Linked DNA regions of Homo sapiens: all the other regions are linked to region 3. The links come from fine-mapping of genetic effects on gene expression. A gene starts in region 3. Each other region holds a variant in brackets. All regions are shown on one strand. Distances are between the middles of the regions.

Region 1 (8,179 bases), 210 kb after region 3:
GGGATATGAGGTCCCATTCCCCAATATGGCCCAGAACCAGTGGCTGACCGATATGGGTGTCTAAAAATTCCAGCCTTGCCTCGGATGGGACAACTCTGAGATGCGCTTTATGCCCCAGGGCTCCCTGTGGGGTCAGAGCGAGGCTAGACTTGAATGGTGCAGCTGTTTGCTCAGCCTCTTCCCCTGCCCTGACTTGCTTCCCTCACTTGCTGGCCAGGATTCCTCAAGGGCCCTTCCTCGGCAAAGTGTTTATTTAAGAATCAGGAATCTCCATCTCATGCTCCACCTTGAGAGAGCATCTCTAATATTGTCCCATGCCAAGATAATGTGAGCAGTTCCAGGCTGAGCAGGTGAGAGATTTGCTGTAGAAGGATGGCCGTCTGCCCCAGTTGGCCTTTCAGTGCCAAAACAGGCACTGTTCTGAGCAGACCAAGAAGATGGGTCACCCTATGTATCAGCATCTCAATCAGGATGCATTGAGCTCCCGTGGAGCCCAGAGCTGTACTAGATTCTGTGGGAGCCTAAAAGAAGCAGGAGAACATGTCTTTCATGAAATTCAAGGCTTATAATAAGCAAGGGCTTATTTCTGCAAACCTTGCCCTCTGTCCTGGGGATTTCAGTTCTAGTATATTCAGATCACTCCTCGTGTGTAGACAGCGGGAAAAAAATGTTGTCCAGGCTGGAAGGCAGTGGTGACCACAGCTCACTGCAACCTAGATCTCCTGGGCTCAAGTGGTCCTCTCACCTTAACCTCCCGAGTAGCTGGGATTGCAGGCATGCACCACCACACCCAGCTAATTTATTTTTGTTTATTTAGAAACAGGGTCTTGCTGTGTTGCCCAGGATGATCTCTAACTTCTGGGCTCAAGTGATCCTCCCTCCTCAGCTTCCCAAAGTGCTGGGATTACAGGCATGAGCCACTGCACCCAGCCTCCACTAAGTTCTATGAACCTGCCAAGGGCTGTGGCACCCAGGAGGCATTGACAGAGTCAAGCCAGGACCCCACTGTCTCTAACATGTCCTAGCAGGAGGCTGTCTTGGAGGGTGCCAGTGTATAGTTCCCTATGTATACTGGGGAGGGCTTGAGAGATGTTGTCTCAGTGACAGCTAACAGCTTGGGTTAAGTAAGGGTCACCCAGGCCTTTTCACTTGAAGCACCAAGGGCTGCTGCATTTCTGGAGACGCAGTAAGACAGGAGACAGGAGCCACCAGTTCTGAGCCATAAAATTAGACAGCCATCGTTCAACTAAAATTCCAGACCCAGGGGAAAATGCCTCTTAGTGTGCATATTATCTGCAGCAAAGCAAAGCAGACTTTCAGGTGTGTCATTGAAAACTGCAGGGGTGAGAAATCTTGAGAAAGTTTTAGCAAGCAAAGGATGGTAAATGGAAATTAATTATACAGTGCCCCTGATTGCTCATTTAAGACATGTAAAAATACCACCGATGTGCCCTTTAATTCATTTGCTGTCTTTATTATTTGAGTATAATGAACATAAAAATGTGTTAGGGCTTTTCCTAGGTTTGCTTCTGAACTCACTTCCCTTCCCCCCAATATTCCACACAATCTTCAATCCCCCGACCGCAGGATCTGATGGCAGGGTGCTGGCAAGGAGCAGGTGGCACTCTCAAAGTGGGTAATTTGAGCAGTTTCATCAAGAGATGAGTGTAGAGGTGTGAGCAGGATGCAAGGAAGCTGCCAGGAGGGACAGCACAAGACCCTGGGGCTAGAAACAGCAGGAATCCCTCCTACTCCAGGCCTGAAGGGAGAGAGGACACAGGGAAACAGGAGCCAGCACAGGGAGTCCTTGACAGGGAGAGGCTGGGAGATTAAACACCCTCTCTCTGAGTTTCCCACTGTCTCTGATCCTCCCCTGTGGGAGGGCCAGGGAGCCCCGTCCAGAGAGACAAAGAAGGGTGGGGAGAGGCGGAGGGTGCCCAGCCCATGCTGTTGTCTTGGCTGATAGTGCTGCAGGGCGTAACCCTGGTAGTGCAGGGAGCTTTGAGTTAACTTCTAGTTGCTCCAATGGAGTTTAAGGTTTAGCTATGGACCTGTCACTGTGTATTAATCTTTGTTTACATAGATAGCAGGGATAGAGGTGACCTCAGACAAGACAGACAGAAGTCAGCCCACAGAGGAAAGAAGACCTGAGACTCACATAGCAGAGGGGACTCAGGACTTGGTCCAGTCCCCTTATTAGTTCCCCGTTCCAACTCACATAGTAATTTGGGGACAAAGCTAGAACCAAGGACAACATTGAATAAAATGCAGGGCACAATGACTGTCTTTAGAAAGGGCTGAGATCAGAGATTCCTGCATGGAGCTGCCTCTAGTGACTGGGGAGAGCATGGAGCTGGGGTGGGGGTGGGCAGAGAGGATACGGGGAGTTATCTGGGTACAGATGTATCATGGGGCTTCACTTTGGGGAACCGGGGTCCCCTAGAGGACCTGGCTGAGCACAGGAAGGCTGGCTTGTGGTGAAGATAGAGATCTGACGAGTCCCAGGACTGTGGCCGGGTGGAGTCCCAAACTCTCTCCAGGCCTTGCCCTTTAGCCAGACCAGACTGTGCAGAGAGCAGAGGCGGCTTTGATTCTGGGACCTGCTGGGCCTGCCCTGTGGGAGGACAGGGATACAGACTGCCTTTAGGGAGTTCACGCACTAGGAACCCAGACACTGACTGAGTTTCCTTCCCAGGATTTGAGCTGCTGACCCTGAGCAGGGAGCTGGGGAGAAGAGCATCCTGGCTGCCCCCATGAGCCAGTAGCTAGAAGCAGGTGGGCAGAAGGCCACCAGCCACCAGCCTCCCACGCCTCAGCAGGGAGTGGCATCTGTTGGTAGCATTTGGAAGGAAATGCTGGTTTCACCTCTAGCCTGTGGTACCAGGGCTGTTTTTAATTAAAGACACATTCCCTTGAAAAATACATCGTGACACCTCAATGCCTCACCACCACGTCAAAGTTGGAGGAGTTGGTGATTAGGACGCACATATGTGTCTGTGGGTTGCTGCTGTTTTGCCTTTTGGAGCCTGATCATCTGGGCTCACGTGTCAGCCTTGAGAACAGCCTAGGAATGTAGTTTTTCACTGACCCAAATCAAGTGGTTCCTTTGCAGAGCACTGCTCTGACCCTGGCCCTGTGCCATATATACTCATCCTGTGTCTTCAAGGAACTTATGGTCAGGGGTGAGGGTGGAGGCTCCAGACGCCATGGAAACTGACTTGGGCCCAGTAGGGGCTGTTAGCATGTCAGATCAGCACTGGGTCCTAGCAAAAATAGACCTTCCCTCCTGCCTACGATGCAGGTGTGGGTGCCTTGCCAGTTCCCCACAGAGACTGAGGGGGCAGCCTCTTTTCCTTTATATAAGAAACATTTGTTTAAGTGGGAGAGTAGGAGTCACAACAGGTGACCCCAAAGAGACGGCGACTCTTGGAAGGCAGGAATGCGACTTGGTGTGCATATGCCTCCTCTGCCCGACTCACCTTCTTCCAGAGTCTTCTCTGCATAAATCTTGGGTGCTCTCTGATCTGTTCATTGAGAGGAACATTCCCCTAGGCCACATGGCGGTATATTCCTTTTTTTTTTTTTTTTTTTTTTTTTTGAGATGAAGTCTTGCTCTGTCACTCAGGCTGGAGTGCTGTGCCACGATCTTGGCTCACTGCAGCCTCTGCCTCCCGGCAAGCAATTTTCCGGCCTCAGCCTCCCAAGTAGCTGGGATTGTACAGGCGCCCGACCCCAAACCCGGCTAATTTTTGTATTTATTAGTAGAAATGGAGTTTCACCGAGTTGACCAGGCTGGTTCAAACTCCTGACCTCAAGTGATCCGCCTGCCTTGGCCTTCCAAAGTGCTTGGATTATAGGCGTGAGCCACCACGCCTGGCCAGTAGTATATACTTTTTAATGTATGGTTTTCTGATTACTGTTTTGTATAATTTCTCTCTCTGGGCAGCTCTATTGTAAACTCCTCAGGGAGAGGGCTACATCTTAGACACAATGTTTCTTATAGGGCGCTCAGGACACACTGCTTCAAGGAGTGAATGACTGCGGGTGGGGCCTCCACTCGGTGCATCCAACAGGCAGCTGGGAGCTCTGCCCTGGCCTCCCTCCCTCTCTTCTGTGGAGCAGCCATGGCTTGCCGCTCTTTACTCCTGCTGCTCGTAATCCCAGGGGATCTGGTCCCTTTTCCTTTAGCTTTCCAAACCTTTGTTTGGCCATGCTCCCTCTTCTCCTTTGCCCTCCTTTTAGGTTTATTAAGTTCAGTGGCCAAATAAAGTTTTGCAGCTCCCTTGTCCTGCAGTGCCTCCTGACTGTCTGGGATAACACGGTTACTGGGAATATCTCCTCTCCTGTCCCCTAAATCATCTGGCAGCATTGGCTGGCTACATCATGCAGCTGACTTTGAGAACACTCCGCAGTGCT[G/A]TTTCTGAATAATAATAAATGGGGCTGAAGCCCAGTGGCCTTTGCTATTTATCTCTGGCTCTGCAGAACAGAGACGTGTGTGCTGAAGTGGCACAGGCTGTGTCTCAGCGGTGGTGGCTCTCTCAGGGGAAGGCAGCTTCCCTAATTGCCTCTTCATTGCAGAAGTGGCCTGGTCTGTTTCCTCAAGGGAATGTTTGCTAATCTGATTGGAGGGTGCTTTCAGCGATTCAGCACCAGCCTTTTGCCTGGTCTGTCAGAAAGCCACACGATTGCAAAGAAGGATGACTGTCAGCTGGACACGCCAACCTTTAAAACCAGCCCCTGCCATCCACAGCCATCCTCAGGCACTCCTCCCCTTTACGGCCTTGGCCTGAACACATTGTCTCTGCCTATGACGTGTAAAATCCCAGCTTGTTCCCAAGTCCTGGGCTTGGCAATCTGCTGGTTTAAATCCATTAGGCTCAGTACTTTGGCAATGAGCTTGCTTCCTCCCTGAACTGAGTAGGTTCTTTCTCCACTTAGGCTATTCTAAGCTGTCCTAAGGAAGGCCTCCTCCTGGTCCAACCTGGCCCCGAGACCCTCACCTCAGTGCAAACCCTCCAGGGATAATATTCCTCCTGGCCTCACCCTCTTGCAAAGAACCTGAAGACCCACACCTATGGGGCAAGGCCTTGGGCTTTCTTCCAAAAGGGCGGGGATGGGAACATCCACTGGCCAAGGACATGACCCTGGACTATATTTGACTTTGATAATTCCCATGTCCTTTCTGTTCTGCTGGCTTTTATCTCAGGCATCTCCCATGTATTCTGATTATCATATTTGTTTTGATGACTGTGATTCCAGAATATGGCTTTGGCCACATTTTGAAATTATTTTGGTATACTGCCCCGACTTGTATGGCATTTTAACCCTCTGGGTCCCTGGTGTTCAACTTTGCCTTTATTGTACTGCAATGGCAACTGGGAACCATCCCTTCCTTTCAACATGGCTGAAATAGTACATAAATGTCGAACCATTTCTGCAAGCGACTTTGGAGATGGACAGGGGGCTGGAAATATCAGCGTTTTGTGATACTTACCAGCTTTCAGTTCATTTAGTATAAAAAGTTAGCCCTATGGAGACAGAATATTTCAACCTTTAACTGTAATTTGATAGTTGTCACCAGATACCAAGGTGGAAAACCAGAAAAGGTACAATAAACAGCTGAGCTGAGTCATTACAACAGACTCTTATCTTGTAGAAACTGCAGACATTATGATGATTATCCTCCTACCTACCAAAGGAGGGTTGTCTACAACAGCCCTGGCAGCCACTAACCCAGGCTATATGCTTAGCCCATAGTAGGTGCTTGGAAAATATGGCTATTATTTTAAAATTCAATGACATACAATTGCTCTCACAGATATATTTTTATTAAGATGATGATATAAGTTACACAGTTCACAAGGAGAAAATCACAATAGGGAGATACACTGTGGGGGAATGTTTATCCTCATGTAGCTGTTTGGGACTCTCCGATCTCTCTGCTATGAACCTCCGTGAGATGAGATGTGAGGCTTCTGGTCCAGCAGGACTGCCGACACCTTGCTTGTTGTAGAGGACCATGTTGAAGGTGCTAAAAATCAAATTAGGACTAGTGCAGCAGTAAGGCTGCCTGCAGCAAGAAAGACATGCAGAATATAGGCATAGCATGGAAGGATCACACACCCATATGTCCTCCTTGCCACATAGAACTCTTACCCATCGCTGCATGAGTAATCTTGACTTTTCTCACTCTCAGGAAACGTGAACTTGCTCTCTTCCATCTGATAGCTTCTAGGCATTGAAAAGATATCTCCCAGCTTGCAGATTGGACAAAAGGCGCCCTCAGAGGGCCCCCACTTGTGGTCTGCATTCGGCGCGTCTCTCTAACTTTCCTAAGGAGAAAATGTGATCCTTTCCTGTGTTCTGAGACTTGCCCCTGACAAAGAGCCCTCTTGCTTCTATGTGGTTCTCTTTGCTCTAAATCCAAAAGCCCATGGAAGAAGAGACCTTGAACCCCAGACTCATGTGCACAAGTACCCTCCTCCTCCAAGTCAGTGAAAATCTGCGACACCCTTCCACCTCCATCTCATTCCTTCCAAAGTCTAGCCACTTCAAATTCACTTTGAAAAGGATTATTTTAACTCGTCTCTGTGGAGGAGATAACCATGGTCTTAATTTTGTCTTAAAAACAATATAAGTGTAGTGGGAATAAAACCAAATGATTTTTAACAGTGATGCCGTGGTTTTCTCATGAGTCTCCTTCACAGCCTAGAAATCTAAAACTAAGGGAGGGAAGAGGAGCTGTCTCCTGTATCCACCTTGCCCTGACCACCCACACCCCACATTGCCTCCCATTACCCAGCACAGAGTGGAGAGAAATAAGAGTGGAGGCCATTGACTCAGGTTGCCACGGCCGGGGCTCAAGGCACAGAAGTGTCAGGTAACTGAGTCTGACTTCTCTAAGGTACAAGAAGGTGTCTGGCCACCTGACATACAGTTATGTGGGAGAATAGGAAGGAGAAACACAGAGCACAGCAAAGCAGCTCTGTTGCTTCATCTGTTCCCCCATGACAGGCGGGACCCCTTTCATGCTCTGCTCTAGGAAACATGATTGGCCTGGGTGGCCATGGGCTGGGAGTGGAGTCCGGGTCTGCTGAGGTCTGGGTTAGGTGTGGCTGGGGCATGTTCAAGTTGAGGCCAGGTGGTGGTGAAATCATAGCTGATGGAGTCGCCAGGGTATGGTCAGGGTCTGTGCGGGGCTGGAGCCGGGAGGAAGGTTGAGGTCAAAAGGATGTTAAGGTTGAGATGAAGTCAGAGTTAGGTTGAAATGAGAGTTGAGACAGAGAGAGTCCCATTTGAATGAGAATATGGCTGCGGGCAGTAAAGCTTGAGAGGAATTCCAGAACGCAGGGTGGGGCGGAGGGCTTAGGTTTGGATGGAGCCGTGGTTCAGATACACTCAGACATTTTCCTCCCACGTGACTCTCCTTACTTCTATAACATGGAATGTTTGGCTCACTCCCTGGGCGCCGTTTGATCCTTAACTCCTTCCGGGCCAGGGCTTACATCAGCCTTTGAGTGCTTCAGCTCCTGCTCCTGCTCCTCTTGCCTTGCTAAATTTCATGGGCATTTGCTTTCCCTAGGGAGGGTGAGAGAATAAAAGCAGCCGAAGTTGAATCCAACTAATATACCCGCTTGTCTTACCCCTATTCACAGATGGATGGTGAGGCAGAGGCATTGGCACTGAAGCCCAGGGCTCCCCTGGGGAATTCAGTGATCAATGCCATCCCCATTTCCTGGAGCAGCGATAATTGGCTCCATGCCGTGCACGCATGAACTCCCCTAGACACTCACTCCTTTACGGAAGAGAAAGCCCGTTTCATGGGGAGCCCATGAGACATGGGAATGCTCTCCTCCTGCTGCCAGCAAGTGGCGGGGCATTCGCTCATCATTTGCCTGGTATCTCTGGGCACAGCTCCCTCAGAAGAGCCAGGCTGCCTGGATCCTGCCCACTGCACATGACTCCTCTGGAATAGGGGCCAGGAATTGAGGACAGGGATCCTCCGACCATCTAAGGGGGAGCAGTTACAGCTGCTGGCAGCAGGGCTGGGTTTCCTCTGTACCATCCACAGCAATTAAACTGAAGGACAAGGAGCAACCTCACCCTCTTCTGCAGCATCACGGAGCACTGTGTCCTACAGCCCACAGACCGTCAGCACTCTCTCCTGTACCTGGCCAGG
Region 2 (8,179 bases), 36 kb after region 3:
AATATAGTAAATACATAAACCAGTAACATAGTTGTTGATCATCATTATCAATGATTATGTACTGTACATAATTGTATGTTCTATACTTTTATATGACCGGTAGTGCGGTAGGTTTGTTTACATAAGCATCACCACAAACACCTGAGGAATGCATTGTGCTGTGACATAAGGATGGCTGTGATGTTACTAGGCAATAGGAATTTTTGGGCTCCATTGTAATCTTACGGGACCACCATTGTATATGTGTTCTGTCATTGAGCGAACGTCATGCGGTGGGTGACTGTACAAGATTCAAGTCAATCTTCACAGCATCCTTGTTGAGCAGACAGTAACATGCTCATTTTATCAATGAGGAAACAGATTCAAAAGCAAGTTGGGAGTGATATCTCACTAGTATATCCCTGTTGCACTGATGCAGCAGAACAGCCAGTGTCCTTCTGATTGGTTGGTGCCTAATATAGGTAGAGTAAGGAAAGTTAATTTTAATGTCAACTTCCAAACCAGTGGCTTTAACCAGTACAATGAAAATATCCCTCACTTACCCAACAAGCAATGTGGAAGTTCCTTGTGGGCCTGCAGCCTTCCTTCCATCCAAGGACATAGGCTTGGGCCCTGTCGCTTTCTGCGTGACCCCTTGCATGCAATCGGCAGATACGGGGAGAGAGAACATGGAAAGAGCATGGAGGTGCCCATGAGCCAGGACTCGCATGGAGCACCTAATTTCCACCACATTTTATTCACAGAATCAGCCATGTAGCAGCCGCTGACTGCAAGGGAAGCTGGGAAATGTAGTCTACCTGGTTTCCCTGGAAGAAAGGAAGGTGGTTTTAGTGAACACACAGCAGTGTCTGCCACATGACCATGCTGCATTGGTTATTACATATTTGAATATCACCCCTAGGTAAAGTCACAAAGGTAGCAAGTGGCAGAGCCAGGAGTAGGACCTAGGTCTGTGTAACCTCAGATCTGGATTCTTTGCAGGGCCTCTCATACTCCTTTAATGGCTGGCTCAGGTTCTGCACCTCTGGATGCAGTGGGTGTTGTGATTGCCTATGTGGACTCTCTTTCCAGGCACCAACAATTCTATAAAACATGTGACTGCTCTCCCTTTCCCTTCCATGGACTATCTGGGCTACAAATTTGAGAGTAGGTTGTTGGGAATTTTTGTGAGCAGCCAACTCAGGATCAGGTCTGTGAAGCTCCTGGCTTATGTGGTGCTCAGTGGCTCTCTTGGGAGTGAGGGGCGATAGACAAACTGTGTCACTCTCCCCAGGAGGGCTGGGCTGTCATTAGCATTCAGCAAGGCTGTGAGTCTTGTTGTACAAATCAGCTGTTTAAAGGCCTTAAAAAAAAAAACCCCTAAAACTGCTGAATGCCTCTCGTGGTTGAAGCTCTTATGAGTATGGAGCTAACAGTTTCCCACGACTGCTGAACAGCAAAAGGGGAGCCATGGTGTAGTGTTTTCCTTTTGATTCATATTTGGAGTCATTTTTAGCAATACGGCAAAATGTGAAGATGCTCTTGGAATGTGGGCATTTGTTACCTTTGACAAAGGAGATTGCTTGTATTTTTGTTTGTCTGTTTTGGTTTTTTTCTTTACAGCTCTTGATCTTGTTTATTCAGAGAAGCAAGAAGGATCTGTTGGTTTCATAAATGTGCTTCTATTCTTGAAAAAATGCTAGAGTTAGCCACTTCTCCCCCCACTTCCTCACTGGTCTGTGGCAGGAGACTCAAGTTGCAAACTAACGCAGCCCCCTTTCCTTCCTGGCTTCTCCCTCCACTCCTATGGGGGTCATCAGGGGGAGGGGCAGAGAGCTAACCAGCAGAGTCCAAACACATTATCTCTTTTGTCTGGGTTTCAGAGTCAGTTTATTTTCTTCCATCAGTTGGGAAGGTGATTCTATGCATAGGGATTCCTTGTATGGAATCTTTCCCAAGATAGGGCTTAGTGTATTGTGCCAGCTTTGACTTCAGTCACTCTGCTTGCTGATGCAACTGACCCTGCTTCATCAGGCCTGGGCAAAAACAGGCCCTTTTAGTAGAGTTCTAATGGGCACTGCTTGTTCGATGGTAATTAACTGGGTATTGGGAATTTCCTCAGTTCCAGATGTCTGGGAGTTAGAAACAAATAACATCTGTTCTCATCAAAAGGTAGAGTGGCAAAGTACAAATCACAAGTCACTCTCAATAAATGCAGGAGCTGGCGTTTGAGATCCACAGTGAAGCCAGATTACCTGTTTGCAGTACTCCTCTATGGATAGAGGAAACAGAGCTAAACATTTCCTCTGAGCCTGGAGCTGACCTGGATAAGCCTCTTCTTGCTTAACAGCACCCCTGAGTCTTCATCCAGATTTGGGAAGAGGATGAGGTTGGTTAGCATGCTGAGTGATAAGGAAGAAAAGGATACTGTGGAGCCCAGCACCTGTCTGATCTAGGGAGAGAATTCATGACTAGTAGACAGAGGCCAGAATTGACTCGCTTCACAGGAATCAAGGTGTAACATTATTCCTTCCCTCCCTCCTACTCTTCCTTTCTTCTTTCCATTTGTCCGTGCATCCATTGGTTTAGTCAACAGACATTTAAACAGTACTCACTAAATGCCAGATTCTTTGCTAGGTGACTGGAGGCATGCAAAGGGGGAGATGTAGTTCTGCCTACAAAAAGCTCACAGTCCAATAGGGGAGTGGAGACATGGACAGAAGTAATCCATTCCCAAGGTGAAAAGTGACTAGTGCCATAAGAAAAGGACAAGAAAGTGTGAGGGAAGGTTGGTGGGGATGAAACCAGGAAGGGGGTATGGCTCACTTCCAGCTGAGCAGATGGGTGTGTAGGTTTGGGGAAGTTTTCATGGAGAAAGAAGTATTTGAACTGAGCACTGAAAGATGGGGTAGATTTCAACTGCAGAAAGTTGGGGAAAGGGTTAGGAGCCTCAAGCAGAAGGACTTGTGTGTATAAAAGTGTGGAAGCTGGAAACAGCATGCCTATTTTGTAATTTATTGGTAGAGACATGCCACTCTTAGTGAATTAGTAGAAAGGCTTCCTTTCTCCCCCTGCCTCTCTCTTTCCTTTCGGATTTCTATATTTTGTGTTCTTATTATTCTTTGGACCATAGAAGAGGTTCATGAAATGAAAGGGTGGGGGCTAGAGATGGGGTGGGCTTTACCAACCATTGACTTTTCCCTCTTCTTTAAGTTTGATCACCTACCAGGGGAAGTCAAGGGGAAATGTTGCCTGTTAATTTTCCTTGTTATAGGTTGGTTTTGATGTTGATGACTGGTATTACTTCTCTAGGATATAACTTTGGAAACAGCATTGGTGAGGGCATTCCATGTAAAACATCAACTTCAGCTTTTCTGTTGTAGGGTATTTTCCGTGCTTGACTACTGATGGTCTTGCAAAGCTCCTGTATTCAAATCCTAGGCTGAGCTCCAGAGTGCTTCCTCCTAGATCGAGGCTTTGGATATGCTCACTGCTCATTAGCAACCTGCAGAAAAGCTGGGATGCAGTCTTCACTGATTTGGTGTGTAACGGATTCCTTGAAGGGAAGCCTGCTTTGCTGATGGGGTCAGCATACGTGGCGTACTGACATGGGAATCATGGCATTTCCAGCCAGTGCTCAACTCTGTGGAATGCTTCCCCTTTCAGCCCAAGTCTCAAATTGCCTCCAAGTTTCCTCATTTCTGAGAAAGTGAGCCAGTGAAGGTTGATATTCAAATATATAAACAGCTAATGTGGCATTTGGCAGTGTCCAATCAGAACCAGTCATATAGTGCTAGAGCAAATTGCTGTGCCAGGCAGTAACTGTTTTGTGGCTGGCTCTTGGGGAAGGTTTGGATACTGGGGGAGGGGTCAGGATAATGGGTGCTGGAAGCATCTCTCAAGTAACTTGGGAAAGCAGCTTTTTCTAAAATGGGAGGAAATTTGAGTTTATTTATTTATTTATTTATTTATTTGGAGATGGGGTTTCACTCTTGTTCCCCAGGCTGGAGTGCTTTGACACGATCTCGGCTCACTGCACCCTCCGCCTCCTGGGTTCAAGTGATTCTCCTGCCTCAGCCTCCTGAGTAGCTGGGATTACAGACGCCCGCCACCACACCTGGCTTTTTTTTGTGTGTGTGTGTGTGTGTTTTTAGTAGAGATGGTGTTTAACCATGTTGGCCAGGCTGGTCTCAAACTCCTGACCTCAGGTGATCTGCCCGCCTCGGCGTCCCAAAGGGCTGTGATTACAGGCATGAGCTACCAAGCCCGGCCTATTTCAGTATTTTAAGAACTGATATGGTGGAACCAGTGCATACCAGCTAAA[T/C]ATAAATGCTGAAACGTTTTATTTTTTTTAAAAGATCAACTATGTCCTGACTACAGCCTAAGCAAAAGGGTTCCTGGTGGTTTCTGCCTGTCAACAGGGAAGATCTCACTTCACAGAGGCTGAAACTGGGGCTAGTTATGGATGCTGGGCCCTGAACAGGTAGAATTTCCTATCTTTTAGCTATAGTTTAAGCCAGAAGTTTTCAAACTTTTTGGTCTTAGGACTCCTTTATGCTTGTAAAAATTATTGAAAACCCCAAGGGAGTTTTGTTGCTATAGGTTGTATCAGTTAATATTTGCCACAATAGAAATTTAAACTGAGAAAATTTCAAAATAATTATTTTATTTAACAATGGCAATAATAAACCCAATTACATAAATTAACATAAGTAGCACACTTTTTGTGAAAAAGAACTACAGACTCTTGGTACAATTTGTTTTAGTCCATTCAGACTGCTATAATAAAATACCCTAGATGGCATGGCTTATAAACAATAGAAATTTATTTTTCACAGTTCTGGAGGCCGGAAAGTCCAAGATCAAGGGGCCAGCAGATTCAGCATTTGGTAAGGGCCCACTGCCGGGTTCACAGACCACCACGTTCTTGTTCCATCCTAACATGGTGGAAGAGATAAGAAAGCTCTCTGGGCTCTCTTTCGTAAGGATACAAATCCCACCCATGAGGGCTCTACCCTCATGACCAAATCACCTCCCGAAGGCCCCACCTCCCTGGGTTAGGATTTTAGCATGTGACTTCTTTTGTGTGTGGGTGGGGGGCCACAAACATTCAGTCTATTGCAGTTTCCAAAGCAACAGCCAAAAAAAAAAAAAAAAAAAAACTTATTGAGAAGAGTGGCCTTGTTTTCTATTTTCACAAATCTTTTTGATACCTGGTTTGATAGAAGAAAAATGGAGTCTCACATTTACTTCTGCATTCAGCCTGTTGTGATATGTTGTTTTGGTTGAAGTATGAAAAAGATTTTTCGGCCGGGCGCGGTGGCTCATGCCTGTAATCCCAGCACTTTGGGAGGCCAAGGTGGGCGGATCACCTGAGGTCGGGAGTTCGAGACCAGCCTGACCAACATGGAAGAAACCCCATCTCTACAAAAAGTGCAAAATTAGCCAGGCGTGGTGGCGCATGCCTGTAATCCCAGCTACTCCGGAGGCTGAGGCAGGAAAATCGTTTGAACCTGGGAGACAGAGGCTGTGGTGAGCCAAGATCACGCCATTGTACTCCAGCCTGGGCAATAAGAGCAAAACTCCATCTCGGAAAAAAAAAAAAAAAAGATTTTTCTTCACAGATATATGTAGATGGGAAAAGAAGGAGTATTTTAATATTTTCAGATAATTATGGATATTCTTCTTTGATACTACACCCAAACTGGACAAGTGATAAGTTTCTAGAAGTTGGAGTGAAATCTGAAACCACATCAGTAAATGTTTTATATTCTGTTACATCAAAATCTGTGGTCTGCCTTGTACTTTGCTTATATCTTTTATCCAAGCATGATTTTGTAATATTATACATTAGTCATTTGGAAAGGATAAGCTCACAGAGTTAGGCAGATCTTCTAAATGTGGACATATTTTATTATACAGTGTGAAAAATCACTTCCATTAATATTACCATTTATATCATCAGAAGTCTTTAGGTGTTGGGAAGCCGTCAAGCTCATAGTGGTGGAGGCAAGTTTTCCATAATTATAAATTTTCCTTAAAAGCTTGGATTTTATCACTGGGGAAAAATATTATCACTTATTTTCCTTGGAGTGACAAGACTTTGAGAAAAGTTCACCAAATTCCCAAGTATGAATAATTATGATTTGTTCATCAGTTGTTCTTTTAAGTGAAAATAGTGTTTCATGAAAAAAGTACGTAGTTCATTGTCCACCTCGATTGTATAAGCTCTTTCTCTTGAGACAACCTTCATACTTCAGTCTGCAGCAGAAGTGCTTTATGTGTATGTGTGCTTATAAGATAGCACTGACTAATAGGAATAATTTACACTGTGACTCATTGGGTTTGCTTCTTTGCTCTCCACACTCCTCAGGAATCTCAAGGGGCAAACGGCTCTCTGTGGGTGTTTCACTGAAGACTCGCCTCTCGGTCCTTACGTGTTCAGACGTGCTTCTCTGAGCTCTGCCTCCATCATTCACTGCTGAGAATATGGCCAGTTGAAATGCACTGGAGAATAGGAACCCATTTCTCTTACGGCATCTCCCATCAGCTTTCCAACAGTAACCTGATGGCTCCAAGGTTCCTGTTTACTTTGATTTACTTTTCCAAGACTTTAAAATACAAACTGTCCCCTTGTGTTTGCAAGGTGTTATTTATTTATTTTTCTTCTTCCCTGGACATAACTTCCAGGCCTTTCCTGGCATAGGTCAGTGTCTATCCTCGAGCTTCCTGTCCCCAGCTGCTGGAAGGACACTTTGCTCTAATTTTATTGCCGCTGGCCCACTTGTCCTACCATTTGGAACCAAGTTCCCTGGAATCTCAGGGGCCGCTTCTTCTACTTCCCCTTTTTACTTCTCTCCGTATGTCCTCTTATCTCTTTTCTGCTTGACCACAGTTTTCAAAGCTTAAATCTGTCTCCAGCCAGCCCAGCTCATGATGCCATTCCTTTTCGAATTCCTATGTCCTCACAAGAATTCAGTTCATCTCTATTTCATTGAGTGTGACCTTGTGCTTTCATCTTGTGGGGAGCCGTTGACTTGTCTAAGACCATAATTCATTTATTTGGGCCTTATAATGATATTGAGATCATCTGCTCCTTGCAGACAGGGCTATTTCTTTATTTCTCCCTCCTAGCCCAGTGAATGCCTTGCACATCATGTGAGCTTAACCATTACTGGCCGATAGTGCTATAAGTCTGGTTTGATTTTTGCTTTTCTGAAAGGAGCTGAAGCTTTAAGCATTTTCCCTGACCACGTATGTGGTCAGGGCTTTGGAAATATCTTGGTGTGTGTTCTTCAAAATGTCGGCATTTGAAGAAGTGGCGTCTCATGGGACCTCTGGTCTTTGGATGTCCTACATTTGGGGAATGAGATGTAAATGTATCCTTTGCTGGGGCCAGGTGGAGAGGAATTTAGTAGCTACAACTCTTATTTATTGATTAAACTCAGCTTTCGTGCACTTTCCAGCCAGAAACAGAGCTAGAAACCTTTTTACCCCGTGGATTTTATTTTCACCTATGGATTCAGATAGTCTACATTTCTTCATTCATTCAGAATGTATGAATTGAGCTCCTCCTATGTACTTGGCACTGGTCAGCTGCTCTGGAGGACCCAAAGGCATCTGATAGGTCACCATCCATTATGAGATATAAGTGTGCACACAGAGGGCTAGCATCTAGAAGGACCAGCTGCTTTGAGAAATAGCCCCAGGATGGTCTTGCCAGAAATAGGAGACCAGGGTGGAATTGGCTTTGTGTTCCCTGACCAATAACTCAGCAGGAGACTGGTTCTGTGCTGCTGTGGAAAAACCTCATTAAAGGGACAAATTGAGTGTAACTTCTCAGGAAAGAGCTGGAAAGCACCAGGCTTTGCTGGCCCTCCTGGTTTTTATGGAAGAGCACATGAACGACCTTCCTGAGTTGAGTGTTGGCAGGACTTAGAGTCCCATGCCTCTCATTTTGGGATATAAAAATAGCATGGGGGATAATAGGATGGTTCAGGGAAATCTTAGATCTTCCTCTCTGCAGGACCATGACAACCACTTCTGTGGGGTGTGTGTGGCAGTGGCTGTGCTCTGTGGCTGTGGTGAGGAGTTGGAGAAAGAGGTGCAGCTGATGTGGGTCCGTTCTTCACTCAACAACTAGAGTAATCTTTTAAAAATGCTTACTTCCTAAAGCCCTGTAATGATTATTAATTGTAGG
Region 3 (8,179 bases):
TTACCCAGCAGCATTGTCCAGTGACTGAATGGAAGTGAAGCTGTTCAGAAGTTGCATAACCACTTGCTAGGGAGGAATTTGGTACCTCCCTTGACTTTTTGTGCCTTCTTTCTCATATTAATAGAATATCTCAGAAAAGAGCTTATCCTACTGTATTATGGTTGTTTATTTTTTGGCCTCATCCATTCAACAGTGATCTCTTTGAGGGCAGGGATGAGGGTCTGTGAGTCACCTCTGTATTGCCAGTACCCAGCTTTGGGTCTAGCACAGAGCAGGCACTCAGAAAATATTTAGTGGATGAATCAATGGACAGAGGGTTAGATGGGTCTTGTTGCTGGATTCCGGCCAGGGTTTGCCCTGTAACTCAGCTAGGAGTTGTTTTGGATCCTTAAATAGGGTGACAGAAGAGGAGCAAGAGGACCCTTTGCCCCTAGTTAGAGGAAAGTGCCCTCTGGGTGGCTTGTCTTCCCTCCATTCATTTGCATGTTAGATACTCTGGTGCTCAGAGACAGCAATAATGACAATAGCCAATACATGTAGTGCCTTTAGTGTGCTTTGTACACATTAATTCATTGAATTCTCACAACTTCTCCGTGAGGTAAGCAGTATCAGTATTATCTCCATGTACAGATGAATAAACTGAGGCACAGTGTGGTTAAGGAATTTTCCCAAGATCATACTGCTAATAAACGGCAGAACTGAGATATGAACCCAGCTGTCTGGCTCCGTAATCTGTGCTCAAGAGAGAACATGAAAAACACTAGGCCTGGTACAACGTAGGCACTAAACAAACGTTTCTCTCTTCATTTACCATCCCTCCCCAAGAAGTGTGCCTTTTTTGTTAATGATATCTCAGACCTGTAGCTTGGCAAAATCCAATCTTGGCCCTACTTTTCCTCTGTAGCTTTTGTCTCTGAACCATACATCCATCCTTGCTGGAAGTGCCAACAATCCCTGTTCTCCTAGGAACCTGGCAACCCCAATTCCCATGCAGCCAGCACAGGGATTGAGGCTTTCCATGATCCAGGCCTGTTTTTATCCTTTAGCACCCCCAAATCCTGACACTCTGGCCCCAAGGCTTTGCATGGTGCTGCCATCTGGAAGGTACAGATGACCACTGACAACCCTCTCTGAAGAGTGAATGGCCATTGGCCAAGACTGGTTCACTGTTCGTCTTTAAACCTCAGGTCAGGGTACCCTATGCAGAATGTAATCAGTTGGTGGCTGAATTCCATTAGTGACTGGCCTTCTCTAACTCTAGTATCAAAGGTATTTTGAATGAAGGCTTAGTGTTGGGGGAGTCACAGTGTGGTGGTACTTATGCGTAGGAAGTCCTATTCAGCTCGCCCTCAGTCACATCAAGAGAAGAGCTGCCTACCCAATGTAAAAGATGGGTGAAATCCAGAGGCTGTAGTAGATAAGCTTTATCAAGAATCTTCAGCCCCATTGTATATGCCTCAAGGCACTCACTCTCCTCTTGTGGCAGGAGTTAAAGGAGACCCTAGATTCTAACTCTCAGGATAAGTTTGAAGAACTACGTTGTACTGGAGTCTCTGCTAGGCCTGCTTACACCTATTATCTGATTAACTCCTCACAATGATCCCCAGCAGGAGGCAGGATTTATTTAAAGTAAAGGAGAGGAAACACTTAGGAGTTAGATAAATGACCGAACTTGGGAATCAGAAACATCCTTACAATCCAAGGATGATTTTTAGCAGCTTCCTGAGCTCAGAAAAGAGGCCCGTATTGACACAATGAAACTCAGACTGGATCTACCTATCTGGAGCAAAATGGGCAGAGGCTAGGACAACTGGTCATTTACACAAAACCTCAGGAGCACAACCATTACTTGTAGGATTGGATGTATGGTAACTGAATTCAGGACTAAAGGTATGAATTGCTACCCAGGTATTGTTTACGAGGGAGCTTGCAAAGAGACTTTTTTCTGACCTGTGACTGCAAAATCTTTGTGAGCAAAGCCTTTATGCCCCCTCCCACTTCCTTTGTTTGCAACCAAGGGATTAGGGGTCTTGAGTGGAAAAGTTGAAGGTACTGGGGGTGACCAGTACCTTGAAGAAACCAGCCTTTCATTTTGAATATTTTATCAACCTATGCAGATCATTGTACTACTGATGGTGAAGACAGACATTATGAATAGAAAGCCAATGTGCTGGAGCCCAGCTAGCGACGATGAGATGAGCCCCTTGGTGCTCATAGCTTTAGTTCCTGTTAGCTTCCATTAGGGGAGAGAGGGCTGATACTGGTAGGTAGAGAAACCAAGTATTGCTAAACAGCAGGATGGAGGTCACGGAGCTGAGCTCTGGCCTGGAAAGGGAGTGACCATATCTGGAAGGAAACTCACATGATCCTAACCACTCACTATGTGTCCTGCACTAATTAAAGCCCTTTCTGGAACATTCTCTCAGTTAATTTTCACAGCCTGTCCTCAGTAAGGTATTGTCTACCTACATTTGATACATGGGAGAAATTGAGCCCTACTGACTTTTTGAAATGTGTCCAGGCTCTCATAACTAATACATGGTGGATCTGGGATTAGAACCCTGGAGTCTGCCTGCACCTCCAGAGAAAATTCTTTGAACAGGTCAACTCAAACCTGTGACTTTTCAGAGAGGAGAACCTGTTCAGCATTCTTCTTTTGTTGTATTCATCCCCTCTACAGTTACACATTATCTTAGAGGATCAGCTGTACAAAATTTAAGATCACACAATTCACTTTGTTTTCTTCTTGACCCTCATTTTTTTAAACTTGGGATTTAATTTTTTTCCATTAAGAATGTGAAAAGAATGAGTATTGCCTTCTCTTTCTAGTCCTGTGGTGGTTTAGGAAGATCCCAAGAAGGGCTGAACTTCCAGGGCTCCTCCTGGGAGAGGGGGCAGAACAGAAGGAAAGATTACACCTTAGCCTGTACTCAAGGGCATTGCTTGTAAGTCTGTCCAACCAGAAGAAAGTTCAGATCCTTTATTTGTGAGCTGGATTATACCTCTGGAAGAGAAAAAAGGGAGAGACAAGTTTTACTCCCTCCTGGAGGCAGATTTCTCTACCTTGATTTTTTCAGAAATTGTGTACATTCTCTCCTCTCATGTATGTATCTCCTACATACCATACACACGATTCTTCTCCCCCTTCTATACCCCAGCCCACGCCAACCCACACCCACTGTTCTCTCTTCCAGCTATGGATCAAGGGAAATCTTCCCGGGTCCCTAGTTGGTATCTGTTTTCATAGCATCTTTGGGGAGGTTTTGTAAACAAAGCATTGGTAGAAGGGCCCTTGGCTGATGGGGCCATAAAGTGCCCTTTCTTTGGTTTTGTGCTCTCCCTCTCTTGTGGGGCCAGTCATTTGAATCCAGAAGATATCCCAGGATGGAGCTGCCCTGAGTATTTCTGTGGCTGGTTGGAAGGCTGGCACACAACAAAGTGGGCATGCAGCAGGCTGCCTCCCTGGCTTAGGCCAAAAAAATAAAGCAACTCAGAGATGGAGAAGAGGCAGGAAATCTATGTTGTAAAAAGTCTTTGTTTAAAGGAATTCCGTTCAGGTGCTGAGAACGGGGTGTTCAGCAGAAGAGGATAATATGAGTAAACATTGGCAGTAAGAACAAACACAGCAGTATCACTGTCTGCGTCTGGCCTCCTCCTGTGCTCAGTCACAGGTCTCTCCCACCGCCCTCTATGATAGCAATCATAAACAACATGTAGAAGGGCTTTACAGTTCACAGACCTCAGTTCCCCTCAGCGGCACTTCCTTGCAGGGTTTCTTTATGCACTGGATGACCCTGGTTCCACATAAATGAAAACTGGGCTTAAAGGACACATCCATGTCCTGGGAGCTGTACAGACTTAAAGAAAAACCTAGATAGGGGCAAAAATTGGGGCAGGCGGTGGGGGTGGGGGGTGGGGGGTGGGGGGGGGGAAGAAGTGGTCGAGAGAGTCATCTAATAGGTCACCAATGTTGCTTCTGGGAGGTTGCCGGAGGGTTGGCTCCTTTCAGCCAGGTTTAGGGCCAGGTCTGGACACACTCAGGAGGCCGGTGGCTGAAGGGCAGAGGGCAGGGTGGAGGCCCAAGTGAGGCCAAGGAAGGAGTGGATGCCGCTGGGGCTGGCACTTCCTTGGCTTCTCAGCGTCCTGGCAACCAAGAAAAGATTCCAGGAGTCGACTGGTGGCACCAATGCGAGAAGCCCCGGGCGGATGAAAGAAGCTGACCCGTGCGAACCCCCCACCCCCTCCACAAAACCAGGAGATTCCTGCCCAAGAGCAAGAGATGGAATTCCCCTAACGGAGGAAGCTGCCGACCTAAGGGCTGGGACTGGCAGCGCGCCCTCTCCGGGAGCTTCAGGTCTGGGGCAGCCTGTGCAGGCGCGGGTGGAGGCCCGGGCGCGTCCCTGGGGGCGGGAGCCAGGGGCGGCCAGCAGGTGGGGCCTGGGAGCTGGACTCCGCCCCCCGCTCCCTCCCCGTTGGTCCGCTGCCGCTCAGCACCGGCCCCTCTCCCGAGCCGGAGCGCGATTGGTGGCAGCGCTTGTCGCTCGGAGGGGGCCGGGCCGCTCTGCTTCGCGGCTCTCCCCGCCGCCGCTGCCGCTGCCGCTGTTCTCCTAGCAGCGCGGGCCGGTCGGACCGCCAAGGCAGCCGGCGCTGGCGATGGGAAGCGGCGTGGCCGCCGACACAGGCAGTGGCAAAGTTTCCCAGACGTACACATCTGGACGCGCGGCTGCCGGCTACCCGTGACCCCTCTAGGAAGGGTTCAGGGATTTTTAATTTGGAAAAAAATCCACCTGGTTTCCTTTGTCAAGGTCTCTCCGGGTGGCCAGCGGCAGGAGCTGCAAACTTGGGCACGGCGGCTACACCGGCAGCGGACCGGGCTTTGGAGAACCTCGGGACTCAGGTGCTGAGGTGCCCAGCGGCTCCGGACGTGCTACGGGGTGCGAGCGCGGGGGAGTTCGGGGCGCACGACAAGGAAGGGCCCCCGGGAGCTCTATATGGAGGAAGGAGCCCAGAATGGTGTGCACCAGGAAGACCAAAACTTTGGTGTCCACTTGCGTGATCCTGAGCGGCATGACTAACATCATCTGCCTGCTCTACGTGGGCTGGGTCACCAACTACATCGCCAGCGTGTATGTGCGGGGGCAGGAGCCGGCGCCCGACAAGAAGCTGGAGGAAGACAAAGGGGACACTCTGAAGATTATTGAGCGGCTGGACCACCTGGAGAATGTCATCAAGCAGCACATTCAAGGTACGGGCGCCCCGGAAACTTGGGTCGCCCATGAGGCCCGGGAGTGCCCCGCGCGGCGCGGGGTGCGCTGGGGCTGGTGCGCATCAACTCAGCCACGGCGGGGCTCTGGGGCCGCAGATGCGTGGTAGTCGTGGGGCCTGCGTGTGAGCTCCTGCCTGCGTTCGGGACCTTCTGTCTGCGGCCGTGCGCTCTTCCCCGGGGCACACGTGTGTGCGCAGGGCTGCACGAGCGGATGTGTGCAGCTAGCTGGCGGTATGGGGGCGCGCTGCGCACGTGTCCAAATGTGCGTGTGACTCTGGGCTGGTTGCTCGCGGGCTCTCGGGATCGCACACAAGTCCGGCTCAGAGTGTGTGTGCATGTGAATGTCTGTGTGTGTACAAGAGGGAACGCGCGGGCAAACGAGCTTTTTTGGCCACTGTAGGCGTCAGGCGAGATGCCCGCGCGGCGGCCCTGACTATTGGCAGTTAAGACCCGCAGGCTGCCGGACAAGCGAGGCTAGGAAAATTGCGTTGTATCAGCCCCAGCCCCAGTCTTGCTGTGATCCCGTTGGTAGGCGATAGGGAATGCAAGGAGCCCTCTGTGGTTGAAAAGCCGCTTGAACCTATAGCAGTCCCTACCCCCACCACAGCCCGCGGGTCCAGGACCCTCTCCAGGAGCAGGTGTCAACGCCGGGAAGTAGCGCTGGAGTCTCTGTCCACTGTGGTGATGACTCCGCCCAAGACTGGAAGAACACGCCCTGGGCTGCGCCTTCCCCGCGGAGCCGCCCGGGACCGGGTGAAGGCCGATCCCTACTGTAGCTCCACTCTCAGGCCCTGGGAGCAGCCGGGGCTGAGCAGACCTGGGTTGGGTCTGAAGTGTAAGGTTACGCTGGTTGGGTGCGCTCCAGACCAGCGCGGGGGTCCAAAGGGAGGGTGGGGGTTGCAGGGCGCTCTCCCGAGGCGACCTGGTCAATGAGCTGTCATGGGAGGGAATGGAGTTCCGGGCGCCAGGAGCACTGGTGCCGGGTGTGCACACACACACACACACGCGCGCGCGCGCGCGCTCACGTCCACACTTCCTCCCCTCCCCGCGCCCCCTGCTTTCTTCCAGGTGTGTGAGCTTCTTAAGGGCAGGGCCGAGCTTGGTTCCCCTGTAAACCTAGCAGGCCCACCAGGCTCAGGGGCCAGTGCATGGCAGACCTTGGCAAAATCGAATTGAACTGAAGGCTTACCCCCCACCCCCCCGCCAGGAGCACTCCCTTTTGTTTACACGTGGATGTCTGAATTCCAATCCTTGCACCTGCTGCTCTTGCCAGAGTAGAGATGGCTCCTCCGTCTGAATTTGGTGTTTCCCCAGGTGTCCAGAATAGTTCCTTTCCAGGAGGGGAAGGTTCAGGGAGGTTCAGGTGAGTGCAGGAGAGGCATCCACATCCATAGTGCTTCCTGACTAATGACTTCAAAACAAGCCCATGGCTTCGGCACCTTCCCAGAAAAGAGGGACATTGACAGCTTCTTCTTCAGACCTGCCTCTGCCTCTCAACCTGGCACTGGGCTTGAAAACCAATTTACCTATCTGTGGGTGCCAGTTGCTGTTATTTCTTACGTGTCCTTTTCCATCCCATAGGTCTTGATTGACTATTAATCAGCAATAGAAGTACAGTGTTTCCCCCAGGGTGATTCAGAATGTTCCCCAGGAGACACAAAGCCATGCCTTACTTTGACATTTCTAGTTTGCCGACAGATTTTGAGATTTTCATTCACAGATTCTGTGTGTGTGTGTGTTCCTGGAAAATGATTCTCTTGTGCTTTTCTTTCTGGTCAGGCAGGAGGTGAGCAAGGTACTGCTTTGGGGATGCTTTCAGGGGATGCCATTAACCCCTGAGCCTGTAACGGAGTGGGTGCCAGTCATGTGGAATGTGGACCATGTCACATGATTTCTAAGGTTCCACATGGAAAAGCATGATGTTGAAGTTGAAAGGAAGCATTGTGATTTTTCTCCCCGGAAACTTTATAACTATGTGTTGTTCAGCACTTTCAAATCTATACCTGAAAAATTGGAGAAGATAGGTTAAAAAAATAGGAGACAGGGTCCCTAAAACACGTGTTGTTCCACTTGTACACGTGCAATGACCCCTGTGGGTATTCAGAAATAACCACAATCTCGACAGAGGGCCAAAGCTGCCACCTATAGGAAGGTAGGGAAGGGTCAGTGACTTGGAAAGACTGGAAATGAGGCAGGCAGGGGCAGAGGTTACCAGGTTGGCTGTGCCATGATGGTGTAGCAATGACCAACAGTTCCCTTTGCCATGCTGGGGCCATCCTGAGCTGGGATTTAGGAAACAGAGGTAAAGGGCCTATAAAATTTGGGGCTGGTCAAGTGCAGCTCTCTGAAGGCAGAGGGTGGTAAAGGACAATAAGATCAAGCTCTTGTGCTTGATGGTACAAGCTGTTTATGTGTAACCCACTGTCAAGTTCCCTCTAGTCAGCATAGCCCTTTGAACAATCCAGTTTACTTTGCTGAACTGGAGGGAATAAGCGGTAATAATAATAAGAGCTAAAATAACATAGCACCTAGGATATGTCAGGCCCTATTCTAAACACTTTACATATATTGACTTATTTAATCTTCACAACCTTATGAAGTAGGTAATATTTGCTCCATTTTACAGATATGGAAACTGAGGCAGGGAGAGGGTATATGATTTGTCCAGGGTCACACACTGGTATATGATAGTATAGGGATGTAAGCTCAGCTAGTGTGGCTTCAGAAGTCTAAGTTCTTACCCACGTACTAAACTGTCTCCCAGGAGGGCCCCAGGGTCCCTTGGAGTCTGTTGACAGTGGTGGAAGTGGGTGTCAGAGGATGGCTGAGGGGTGAGGGAGTCAGCAGCCTTCCCACTTGGAAACTCCATAGATAAACTCAGGTTTTGCTTTGTTTCATGCCAAGAGGCAGAGG

Direction of the effects. Alleles are on the strand shown, and positions count from the first base shown. SD is a standard deviation of normalised expression in the study named.
In carriers of allele G in region 1, the expression in atrial appendage of the gene that starts at base 4,599 in region 3 tends to be lower than with A alone (small effect, 0.39 SD a copy in GTEx).
As copies of T replace C in region 2, the expression in aorta of the gene that starts at base 4,599 in region 3 goes up (moderate effect, 0.47 SD a copy in GTEx).

The links. PIP is the estimated chance that this variant, and not a neighbour inherited with it, causes the effect.
Region 1: its variant is fine-mapped to the expression of GALNT18 in atrial appendage (GTEx, PIP above 0.99).
Region 2: its variant is fine-mapped to the expression of GALNT18 in aorta (GTEx, PIP above 0.99).

What each region holds. Positions count from the first base shown.
Region 1 is chr11:11,403,784-11,411,962 of GRCh38, reverse strand. All of the region lies in intron 3 of GALNT18 (polypeptide N-acetylgalactosaminyltransferase 18), which reads left to right. Among named protein-coding and RNA genes, the nearest start is that of CSNK2A3, 55 kb to the right of the region's middle. RefSeq lists enhancers at 2,596-3,097, 7,267-7,561, 6,984-8,179, 7,526-8,179. The variant G/A (reference allele first, on the strand shown) is at 4,417.
Region 2 is chr11:11,582,764-11,590,942 of GRCh38, reverse strand. The region is part of intron 1 of GALNT18 (polypeptide N-acetylgalactosaminyltransferase 18); the gene reads left to right. Among named protein-coding and RNA genes, the nearest start is that of GALNT18-AS1, 17 kb to the right of the region's middle. The variant T/C (reference allele first, on the strand shown) is at 4,304.
Region 3 is chr11:11,618,425-11,626,603 of GRCh38, reverse strand. GALNT18 (polypeptide N-acetylgalactosaminyltransferase 18) reads left to right here and starts at 4,599. Exons shown (of 11, transcript NM_198516.3): 1 at 4,599-5,245. The coding sequence starts at 5,011. RefSeq lists silencers at 4,297-4,656, 5,407-5,486, 5,507-5,576 and enhancers at 4,159-4,659, 4,777-4,856, 5,067-5,116, 5,857-6,086, 6,157-6,296 and 1 more.